Regions from separate parts of the Homo sapiens genome. Here region 2 is linked to region 1. The links come from fine-mapping of genetic effects on plasma protein levels. A gene starts in region 1. The other region holds a variant in brackets. All regions are shown on one strand. Distances are between the middles of the regions.

Evidence for each region. A credible set is the group of variants that fine-mapping cannot tell apart. PIP is the chance, under the fine-mapping model, that this variant and not a neighbour inherited with it causes the effect. The UK Biobank Pharma Proteomics Project read protein levels with antibody pairs (Olink). The fine-mapping took linkage between variants from a reference panel, not from the people measured, so its PIPs are less certain.
Region 2: its variant is the best candidate, but not a certain one, in a credible set for the plasma level of the CASP8 protein (UK Biobank, PIP 0.81).

What each region holds. Positions count from the first base shown.
Region 1 is chr2:201,258,195-201,263,438 of GRCh38, forward strand. It overlaps CASP8 (caspase 8), which reads left to right and starts at 2,342. Exons shown (of 9, transcript NM_001372051.1): 1 at 2,342-2,419. RefSeq lists enhancers at 1-46, 6-150, 147-206, 227-646 and a cis regulatory region at 78.
Region 2 is chr2:201,227,699-201,233,216 of GRCh38, forward strand. It overlaps a transcript of CASP10 not described here. Among named protein-coding and RNA genes, the nearest start is that of CASP8, 30 kb to the right of the region's middle. RefSeq lists an enhancer at 4,487-4,736. The variant C/T (reference allele first, on the strand shown) is at 2,709.

The sequences.
Region 1 (5,244 bases):
GCTGAATTTGCTAGTCAACTCAACAGGAAGTGAGGCCATGGAGGGAGGCAGAAGAGCCAGGGTGGTTATTGAAAGTAAAAGAAACTTCTTCCTGGGAGCCTTTCCCACCCCCTTCCCTGCTGAGCACGTGGAGTTAGGCAGGTTAGGGGACTCGGAGACTGCGATGGTGCCAGGAAAGGGTGGAGCGGGTGAGTGCCTGTTGCCAAGGTGGCCTCTTCAACAGGAAACCACAATATTTTTGTTTCTTGACTTGCTCTAGAAACAGGGCTGTGGGGGTGGGGAAGCAACTTGGATCTGCCCTTCTGAGGACACCTCTGGGTGCTGCCTGGCCCAGGTCTCCTGTGTGGTTTCTCTCTGAGCCGTTGCCTCTGACTTTGCTACTTTTTCACTCTGAGCAGTCTCCAGTTCCTCTGCTACCTTTTTGTCCTCCAAGCTTCCCTGCCGCCTCGAATGCAGATACACGGTCTCCCTCCTGTGGACCCGTTTGGAGAGTCCAGAAGACTTTATCAATCCACTTTTTTTTCTTTTTCATTTGGCCCTGGGGCCGACGGTTAAGTACTTTATTCTGTCATTCTGTCGAATCACGATGCCCTGAGGTGCACAGCCCCTTCCCCCTCTTCCGTGTCTGAAGGGTTTCCTTTTATCTCTCCACCCCCACCCTTGCCCTCCTGCCCTCTCTCTTGTTCCCCAAAGACAGTTCTCTAATGTTTTGATGTGGATTCGTGAATTTATCTGTATCTTTGCAAAATGTATTTTTCTTTTGTATGTGTACACTGTTTTTTAACTATGCGATCTCAGGCAAGTAATTCCTCTGTGCCTCTGTTATCTCATCATTAAATGATTAATAATGCCTCCAGAGGTGACTGTGAGGCTTGAAGGAGATAATACGCATACATCACTTACTACACGAGTTAGCAATTATTATTGCATATTAATACTATTGGTATTTTATTTTGCTCATTCTGTTTCTATTTCTTTTTTATTTATTTATTTTTTGAGACAAAGTCTTGCTCTGTCACCCAGGCTGCAGTGCAGTGGTGCAATCACGGCTCACTGCAGCCTCAACATCCTGGGATCAAGCAATTTTCCCATCTCAGCCTTCAGATTAGCTGGGACCACAGGCGCGTGCTACCACACCTGGCTAATTAAAAAATTTTTCTTCATAGAGATGGTGTCTCATTTTGTTGCCCAGGCTGGTCTCAAACTCCTATGCTCAAGGGATCCTCCCACCTTGGCCTCTCAAAGTGCTAGGATTACATGCATGAGCCACGGTGGCCATCCAGGCATTGATATTATGAGGCCATCTTGACCTAGCCCTCTCTGGTGAAGAGTCCTTTTCAGATACTTCGTTCAGTCTTCTCAGCTATGAGTCCCTACCCTCTGAAAGCTTATATTCTATTTGGGGAAAGACAAAAGGCAGTTTCAAAGAAGAGAGGTGTTTGATTTTCTTTTCCTACTTTTAATATCAGAAAACATTTCATCTAACTCTCAGTATGAAGGCAATATTTTGTTTACTGGTATATCCCTAGAGCCCAACATGGTGAGGGCCCCAGGATTTGCTTCTTTGATAAGATGGTAAACCCAGCTTTCAGCTAACTTCATGGTTTCCTCAGCTACACTCATATACAAGGATCACCTTTGGTAAGATGGACTTACCATCTTACCAAAGAGTTTTTGCATTTTAGAGTTTTTTCTTTTTAGATTTTTTTCATTTTAGAATTTTTTTATTTCAGAGTTTTTTCTTTTTAGAGGTTTTTCATTTTAGAGTTTTTTCTTTTTAGAGTTTTTTTTTTTTTTTAATTTTAGAGTATTTTAGGCTGCTGAGGGTGGAATCTGGTGACCTTGGGGCCACAGAGATGCTCCTTGGCTAAACCAGGGGCTTTAGCTCTGAAAGTTCACAGCCACCCTGAGAACCAAGATGAGAGGGCTCTGCAGTGTCCAATCTCAAGACCTCTCTGAGGTGCTCCATCAAGATTCATTGAATGAAAAAATTAAAGTCTTAATGATGAACCCAGAAAAATCTTTAAATCCTAAATATGAAATGAAAGTGTTCTTAGTTACAATCCAGTCCAACGTCCTTGTTTTGGAATGTGGAAATGAGGCCCCAAAGGTAAAATGGCCCATCCAAAGTCACAGCCAGGGGCCAGTGCTCAGGTGGCCAGGTGCCCTGCGTGCGGTCTCCTGGACCACCAGGCCTTTTTCCTGCAGCTTTAGAAGCTTTAGAAGGCACTCTGCTCACTCAGGGGCAAGTGGTAAGCGCTCTTTCCCCTCTAGTGTTTGTGACTCAGGAGTTTCGAAACAGGAAGTAGAGCTGGCTGGCTGTGCCCTTCCGTCCTTCATTAGACGTTTGCTCTTGTCTTAGATGCTCAGATGGTAGTGGATAGGCCTGTGACGAAGGTGCTACCATCGTGAGAGTAAGGTAAGGATTTGCCTCTTTGTTAAGGTCAGAGGGGCCTTTTGGGAGGAAGGCCTTTGATTCTGGAGTTTTCTAGGCTGCTGAGAGTGAGATCGGGTGGCCCTGGGGCCATGGAGGTGATCCTCGTATGTGAGTGTGGATGGGGAAACCATGAAGTTAGTGTAAGAGGTAGCAGTCCCTCTGAGAGCCTTGCCGAGGGCCGTGCAGTTTCCAGATCTGAAGGCCATTCTAGCTTAGACTGATGAAGTCCTAGGAGCTTCTGAAATGCTGCAAGTTTAACTACTTGTATAAAGGCCTCATCCTGATCCCAGTCAAACTTGTGAAATAATAGAAGCCAAAATTTAAATCTCTACTGACTTTGCTGCTACAGCTATCCTCCCACCAACACACATACCCACCAACATACACACTTGCCAACATAAACGCACACACACATACACACAAACACACCCATGTGGTCCTACTAATTCAATTATTTATTTTTTAAAGAAATTAAAAAAGACTGGGCGTGGTGGCTCTCGCCTGTCATCCCAGCACTTTGGGAGGTCGAGGCGGTGGTTCACCTGAGGTCGGGAGTTTGAGACCAGCTTGACCAACATGAAGAAACCCCGTCTCTACTAAAAATACAAAATTAGCCGGGCATGATGGCGCATGCCTGTAATCCCAGCTACTCGGGAGGCTGAGGCAGGAGAATCGCTTGAACCTGGGAGGTGGAAGTTGTGGTGAGCCGAGATCGTGCCACTGCACTCCAGCCTGGGCAACAAGAGCGAAACTCCGTCTCAAAAAAAAAAAAAAAAAAAAATTAAAAAGATACAGAACAGTTCAAAAAACAATATAATGGGAAGACTAGATAGACACAATCAGAGACCTGCACTTGTGGGGTTAAGAATTTACAGGTGAAGTTGCAAGTTTCATTCTGTTTGAAAATGATGGGATTATATGTTTTGCTGAGGTTTGGACACCTTTGCTGGGTTGTTTGAATGCCGTGGCTGCAGCGCCCTGTTATGGACATCATGTGCGTGCAGAATGGATGTCTGTCAGGTTCCGGGGCAGCCCGCAGTCTGAGGCAGCCAGCCTGGATTGGAGGGAGTGGCAATACTACCTGCCGGTTAGGGGTTTGGGCCTGAGAGCGAGTGGCTTTCAGGTTCTCTCAAGCTTCGGATGAGATGCAGGTTTCTGCTTCCGATGGCAAATGCATGTTTTGCTTTTTAGTTATCACTGCAAGAGCTAGGATGCTGCTAGAATATTACTGGAATGATTGTGATGAGATGGAATGTATTTACAGTTTAATTGTGACATGTAATACAGTGGTAGAATGGGACTCTGGAATGAGATGCTGGGGCCTAGATTCTAGCACTTCCTTTGTGAGGCTCTAACCCCCTCTCCTATAGTGGATTTGTTAAGAACTTCTGTTTTTGTGGCTTTGTTATTATAAAATTTTTTGAAATGTTGTTCTCTAAAAAAGTTATGATTTTATGTTTTTCTTCATGAGATTCTTTCACTGCCTTCCAGCTGCAAGTAGAATGACGTCTAAATCTTTGTGATCTGTCACTGAAGCCCTTGAGTGAGACACTTAAATCTGGCTGTGGCTCTCTCTCTTACTAGCTTATTTCCAAGCCGTGATTTTTCACAACAGAAAAATGGGGACAGTAATAGTAGTTTCTTCAGAGGCTTTTAGTGAAATGAGGTTAAAAAATATTTTTATGTTTATATGGATATATAGATTACAAACATTTATATATCATTTATTTATATGATTATTATAAACACATATTTATATTTAAATACTTTGGGGCATAAATATATAAAATAATAAATATACTTATGTAATACAAATAGACTTATATACATTTACTATTTAGCAGAGATTATATAAAATATATGTATTACATGGCAACATATTCAAATTTACATATGTTATATATACATGTGGAAAAAAAATTGGGAAAAGGCCACAAAATGTGACCAAAGAATTACTTCCAAATGGCAAGTTTTTAAGTAATTTTTATTTTCTTTTTATACTTCTCTGTACTTTCTCTATGAAACAAGTGTTACTTTTACTGTTTTTAGGAACCAAAAATACAAGTACATTGTTTAAAAAATACTAGCTTAACAAAGTTTCTAGCCCATAAGCTAGTGCAGAAAATCTAGGTCCCATAAAACAAGAACTGCCACACGATGTCTCTCCCCTTACAGTGCTGGATGGCCCGTTGTTAATGGTGTCATAAATCCTTTGCAAGTGACTGTTTTCTAGGTACTATGACTAGAGGGATGTGTAACTTAAGCAAAAAACAAAAAACAGAAAAGGCTGACTATCATCTGACAGTGTATCCTGGAACACCTAGGCCAGAGAAGAAGCCACGTTAGCATTTTCCCTTCTAAATGTCAGTTATGATTTGATGGGGAAACCACTTAAAAAGCATTGTCACGTTGTTGAAAAGGTAATGAAATGAGTGAGATGAGATGGCTATGGAGGACGGAGCTATGCGCCAATCTTATTATATCCAAATTCATGTCATCTCAGCCTTGGATTGTATTGATTTTTATTATATACTGTCAGAAAATGCTATTGAATGTGTAACAAGAGCCTCAAAAAGGTTTATTCATTTTGACACCATAATACTACTTTTAGGAAATTATTCTAAGAAAATAATTAGAGGTATTCTTAAAGATTTGCGTTTTAAAGTCATCCTAAATGTAATCAGGAACTGGCTATGTAAATTATAGCCCATCTCTAAGATTAAGTGCCTTACAGATATTAAAACCCATGCTGTAGAAGAAAAACTAAAGACAGGAAAGTACTTACAATACAAGATGTACTTACCAGT
Region 2 (5,518 bases), 30 kb before region 1:
GGTGCCTGCCACCATGCCCGGCTGTTTTTTTTTTGTATTTTTAGTAGAGACAGGGTTTCACTGTGTTAGCCAGGATGGTGTTGATCTCCTGACCTTGTGATCCGCCCGTCTCGGTCTCCCAAAGTGCTGGGATTACAGGTGTGAGCCACCGCGCCCGGCCCCCAAACCGGTTTCTAACAAATAAGTGTTAAGTCAAGGGGTTCCTCTACAGAATCAGTCATCTTCACCATGACACCCACAACGCCCAAATTGCTGCTGGCATTCCTCCACTCTGAATGCACAATTAGAAGCTCAGCACTCTATTGGATAAGGCTGCTATTTCACCATTTGAAGAACCTTCAAAAAGGTCTTTAGAGACAGGGCATGGTGGCTCACACCTGTAATCCCAGCACTTTGGAAGGCCAAGGCAGGCATATCACTTGAGGCCAGGAGTATGAGACCAGCCTGGCCAACATGGTGAAACCCTGTCTGTACTAAAAATGCAAAAATTAGCCGGGTGTGGTGATGTACACCTGTAGTCCCAGCTACTCAGTGGCCGAGGCACAAGAATTGCTCGAACCTGAGAGGTGGAGGTTGCAGTAAGCTGAGATCGTGCCAGTGACACTACATTCCAACCTAGGTGACACAGCGAGACTCCCTCTAAAAAAAAAATTCCTTAGAAACTTCAGAAGGATCCTTCCACTAGGGCAGAAGGGATGAGAGAGTAAGAATCTTCACCCCTACCACTCATGCCTTTCTGAAGGCTCAGTCTGGCCACACTGCAAGGGCACAGTGAGCCAGTTTTGGCCTGGGGCTTCTTGCTGCTGCCAAATTAACAACTCCAGCCCTTGGGTTTAGCCACCTGCTGCTGCTAAAAATGTTGCTGAGAGTGATGGAGAGGTGTTTTAGTTCCCATTTTACAGATCAGAAAATCAAGGCCCAGAGAAACTAAGTAGTCTTGGAGATAGGAGCCATGGCCTCTCCACTTGAGTTATCATCTTGAAACATCAAGGACAAGCCAACTTTATCAACAGTTTTAGGCCTGTGAGAAATGGGCTTGGTTTATCTTGAAGATTGTAAACAAATAAAAAAATAGACTGCTCCATTACTGATGAGAAATATGAGTCATTCTGCCAGGAATTGAAAGTACAGCTGCCCATAAAAAAGCTATGCCGGGGTCCAGCCTCTCCAGGTCCTTGTGTGTGAAAAACCACTCAGTCAAAGTTCCCCTTTTATTTCTCTTTGTGCTCAGTAGGATGCTGAAATTTCTGGAAAAGACAATGGAAATCAGGGGCAGGAAGAGAACAGTGTGGGGTGCTAAACAGATCTCAGCAACCTCCCTGCCCACGGCCATCTCTGCGCAGACACCTCGACCCCCCATGCGCAGGTGGAGCAGCGTTTCCTAGTTCTTTCCAGAGGCTTCCTTCTGCCTGCCTTCCAGCCACATCGCCTGAGATTGACAACGCCCTACAGCAAGACGGAAACCTCCCTTTACAGCACCACCTTGCGATTCTGCAGCCACAAAGTTGAGACTTCTGAACGTGGCACTCTTCTGTTCCCTTACTGTTTCACGTGTACCTGTGTCATCTTTCTTGTTTCATCGTAAACATACTTCTAAAATTCCCATTTTCTTTATTTAGAAATAGAACTACAAGCGGATGGTTAAACAATTTAAACAAATGGTCCATGGGGAAAAGTGAATTTCACACTGTCCCCCAAACTTTCAGTGCCTTTTATGGAGATAATTATTGTTTCTAATGTTTTGAATATTCTTTCAGAGATATTTTATTCTTATATAAGCATATGTGTATTTGTGTCCTTCCCTCATTTTCCCCCCACAAACACTAGCAGACTGTTTTGCACCTTGGTTAGCTCATTTAACATATCTTGGAGCCAGGTGCGGTGGCTCATGCCTGTAATCCCAGCACTTTGGGAGGCCGAGGTGGGCGGATCACCTGAGGTCGGGAGTTCGAGACCAGCCTGACCAACGTGGAGAAACCCCGTCTCTACTAAAAATACAAAATTAGCCAGGCGTGGTGGCACATGCCTGTAATCTCAGCTACTAGGGAGGCTGAGGCAGGAGAATCGCTTGAACCTGGGAGGCGGAGGTTGCGGTGAGCCGAGATCGTGCCATTGCACTCCAGCCTGGGCAACAGAACATATAGATCTGCTTGATCCTTTTCATGACTGCTACAGCTCCATTGAATGTATGGATCATCAGTGCTCCAGCTAGCACCTTAGTGATGGGCATTTAGGGATCACAAACTTCATAAGGGCAGAAACAATATCTTACCCATCCTCTGTTTCTGATATGGTTTGGATGTGTGTCCCTGCCCAAATCACACGTCAAGGTAATCCCCCATGTCAGAGGTGGGGCCTGGTGGAGGTGATTGGATCATGGGGATGGATCCTTCATGAATGGGTTAGCACCATCCCTTTGGTGCTGTTCTTGTGATAGAGCTCTCATGAGATCTGGTTGTTTAAATGTGTGTGGCACCTCCCCACTCTCTTGGTCAAGTTCCTGCCATGTAAGATGCTTGCCCTTGCTTTGCCTTCTGCCATGAATAAAAGCTCTCTGAGGCTTCCCCAGAAGCAGATGCCACTATGCTTCCTGTACAGCCTGTGGAACTGTGAGCCAATTAAGCCTCTTTTCCTTATGAATTATCCAGTCTTAGGTATTTCTTTGTAACAGTGTGAGGATGAGCTAATACAGTTTCCTACACTGTAAC[C/T]TAAGGCAATGCTTTGCACAAAGGGATGAACCAGATTGCTTAGTAATTAAAACACAAATACAAACCACAAGCATATCCATTCATGAATTGGGGGACAGCTTTTATTTGATTCTGAGTTCTGATACCTGCTGCTTTGCTTTGTTAAAAATGTGCTAGTTCTCATTCAGCTTCCTATCAGTCATATCACCAACCAACATGTATAACATGTACAATCTGCCAGGTCAGGAGGAAACTTATGGATACAAGAAATGTCCCTCCCTTCTAGGAAATGATAATCTGCTTTGGGAGAGAAGGCAGGTACTTTTTGGCAAAAGTGACATAATAAAATAATCAAAAAAAGATGGATCTTTTTTTCTTTTTTGAGATGGAGTCACGCTCTGTCACCCAGGCTGGAGTGCAGTGGCGCGATCTCGGCTCACTGCAACATCCGCCTCCCAGGTTCAAGCGATTCTCCTGTCTCAGGCTCCCGAGTAGCTGGGACTACAGGCACCCACCACCACGCCCGGCTAATATTTTGTATTTTTAGTAGAGACGGGGTTTCACTGTGTTAGCCAGGATGGTCTCGATCTCCTGACCTTGTGATCCGCCTGCTTCGGCCTCCCAAAGTGCTGGGATTACAAACATGAGCCACTGCACCAGGCGAAAAGATGGATTTTTTAAAAAAGGTGTTAGGATAATCAGGTCCCCACCTGCAAGAAAGTAAAGTTAGAAGCCCACCTCAGACCATGCATACCAGCACAAAAATGTCAAATGGCTTAAAGATAAAATGTTAAAACAAGTCTAGAAAGGTATTAAAAGAAAATATAGAAAATACAGCACCAGCAAAAATTTCCCTACACAAGATGTAAAAGCCAGAAGTCATAAAGGAAAAGGTTGATAAATTAGAATAGATAAAAATGTAAAACTTTTGTATAATATAAGACACAAAGAATGAATTTAAAGACATACAATGAAGGTTAGGAAGATGAAGATGTTTTGGCGATGAGTGGTGGTTACACATCAGTATTAATGTACTTAATGTTACTGAACTGTACACTTAAAATGATGAAAATGGTAATTTTTATGTTATGTGTATTTCATCACATAAAAAAAGACATGAAATGAATCGGGGAAAATATTTGCTACATAACTAAGAATGAAGGCCCTTAATAAAATCTGTAAAACTATACACACTTTTAGGAATGAATCAACAAATAATTTCTATGAATTAGAAAAAAGTGACAATCCAACTAAAAAATGAATAAGGGATATAAGCAATGTGTTTCACAGAAAAAATAAAAATTGACAATGAAGTTATGAAAAAATGTTCAGTCTCCTTAGTAATTGCACAAAACAAACTAAAACAATGAGACATTACCCCTAAGATTAGTAAATGTTAAAGAAAAATAATAATTGGTGAGGGTGTGGGGAAGTGGGCACTTACACCTATGTTTGGAAATATAAATTGGTGCAACCTTATAGGGAGAGCAATCTCACAACATTTTCCAAAGACTTACATGCACAACCCTATGGCAGAGAAATTTATTCCTCTTCCAGGATTTTTTTTCCTTCAAAAACAGTGATGTGGATGAAAAACACATGTTCACTACTGCACAGGGTATAACAGCTGAAAACTGGAAACGATAATACTCACATTCCCTTCAGTAGGGGAATGGTTAAATAAATTTTACAAGCCATCTGGTAGATACCAGGCATGAGCTAAAAGTTAGGGTCCAGTTAGAGATGGAAAGCACACCAGTAATTTGAAAGGGAAAATGTAATATGAAGAATTATTAACTAGTAAAAGAAGGCTAACTGCTAAAGGTACAAGAGCACTCAAGCTGTCTGCAGTCAGCAGGCCCCGGCTGGTGAGCAGGAAGCTGCCCGCTGGGAGGCTGCCAAAGTTCCCTGAAGGTGAGCACCACTGGTTCTACAAGCTGCTGGCAGTCATGGCGTTAAGAGCAGGAAGAGAAGCACCAGAACCCGGAAGAGAAATCCAGTCCTCTGCTAGGCCTTGCACCGTCCCTCTGGCGCCCTCTACTGACAAAGCCAGTAAAATTGTGCCGCTAGCAAAGGAGATCTTTTTATGGGATGTAGCTTGGTGTCACCAAAGAGAACAGAGTGGACTTGGAGCTCAGATGCAACACAATGATTGATACTGGCACAGTATACTTACCCTGCTTTTGTAAACAAAATGGTATATGTGATGTCTCTCTTTGTCTCTCTGTATATAAAACAATATTTGTTTCTACTTATTATGTATTTATGTCTTTACTCTGCATGCCAGGAGCTAAGTATTTTGCATGTATTAACTCATTTTGTTCTCATAATAACCTTCACATGCAGGAATCATTATAGCTACTTTATGAATGAGCCGAGGAAGGCACTGAGACGTTAAGTAACTTGCCCAAGGTCACGCAGCTAGTAAGTGGCAGAGCAAGAATTACTATGGCTTTATAAGCCTAGGAAAAAGTCTGAAAGAATCAAAATGTTAACAGCGGGGACCTCAAGGAAGCATTGAAGAGGCCATGGGAGAAGTTTTCACTTTGTTAAAAAATCAGTCCTTCAAATAAATAAATACAGTGAGGCTTCCCCAGAAGCAGATGTCACTATGCTTCCTGTACAGCCTGTGGAACTGTGAGCCAGTTAAACCTCTTTTCTTTATAAATTATCCAGTCTTAGGTATTTCTTTATAACAGTGCTAGGATGAGCTGATACAGTTTCCTACACTGTAACCTAAGGCAATGCTTTGCACAAAGGGATGAGCCAGATTGCTTAGTAATTAAAACGCAAATACAAACCACAAGCATATCCATTCATGAATTGGGGGG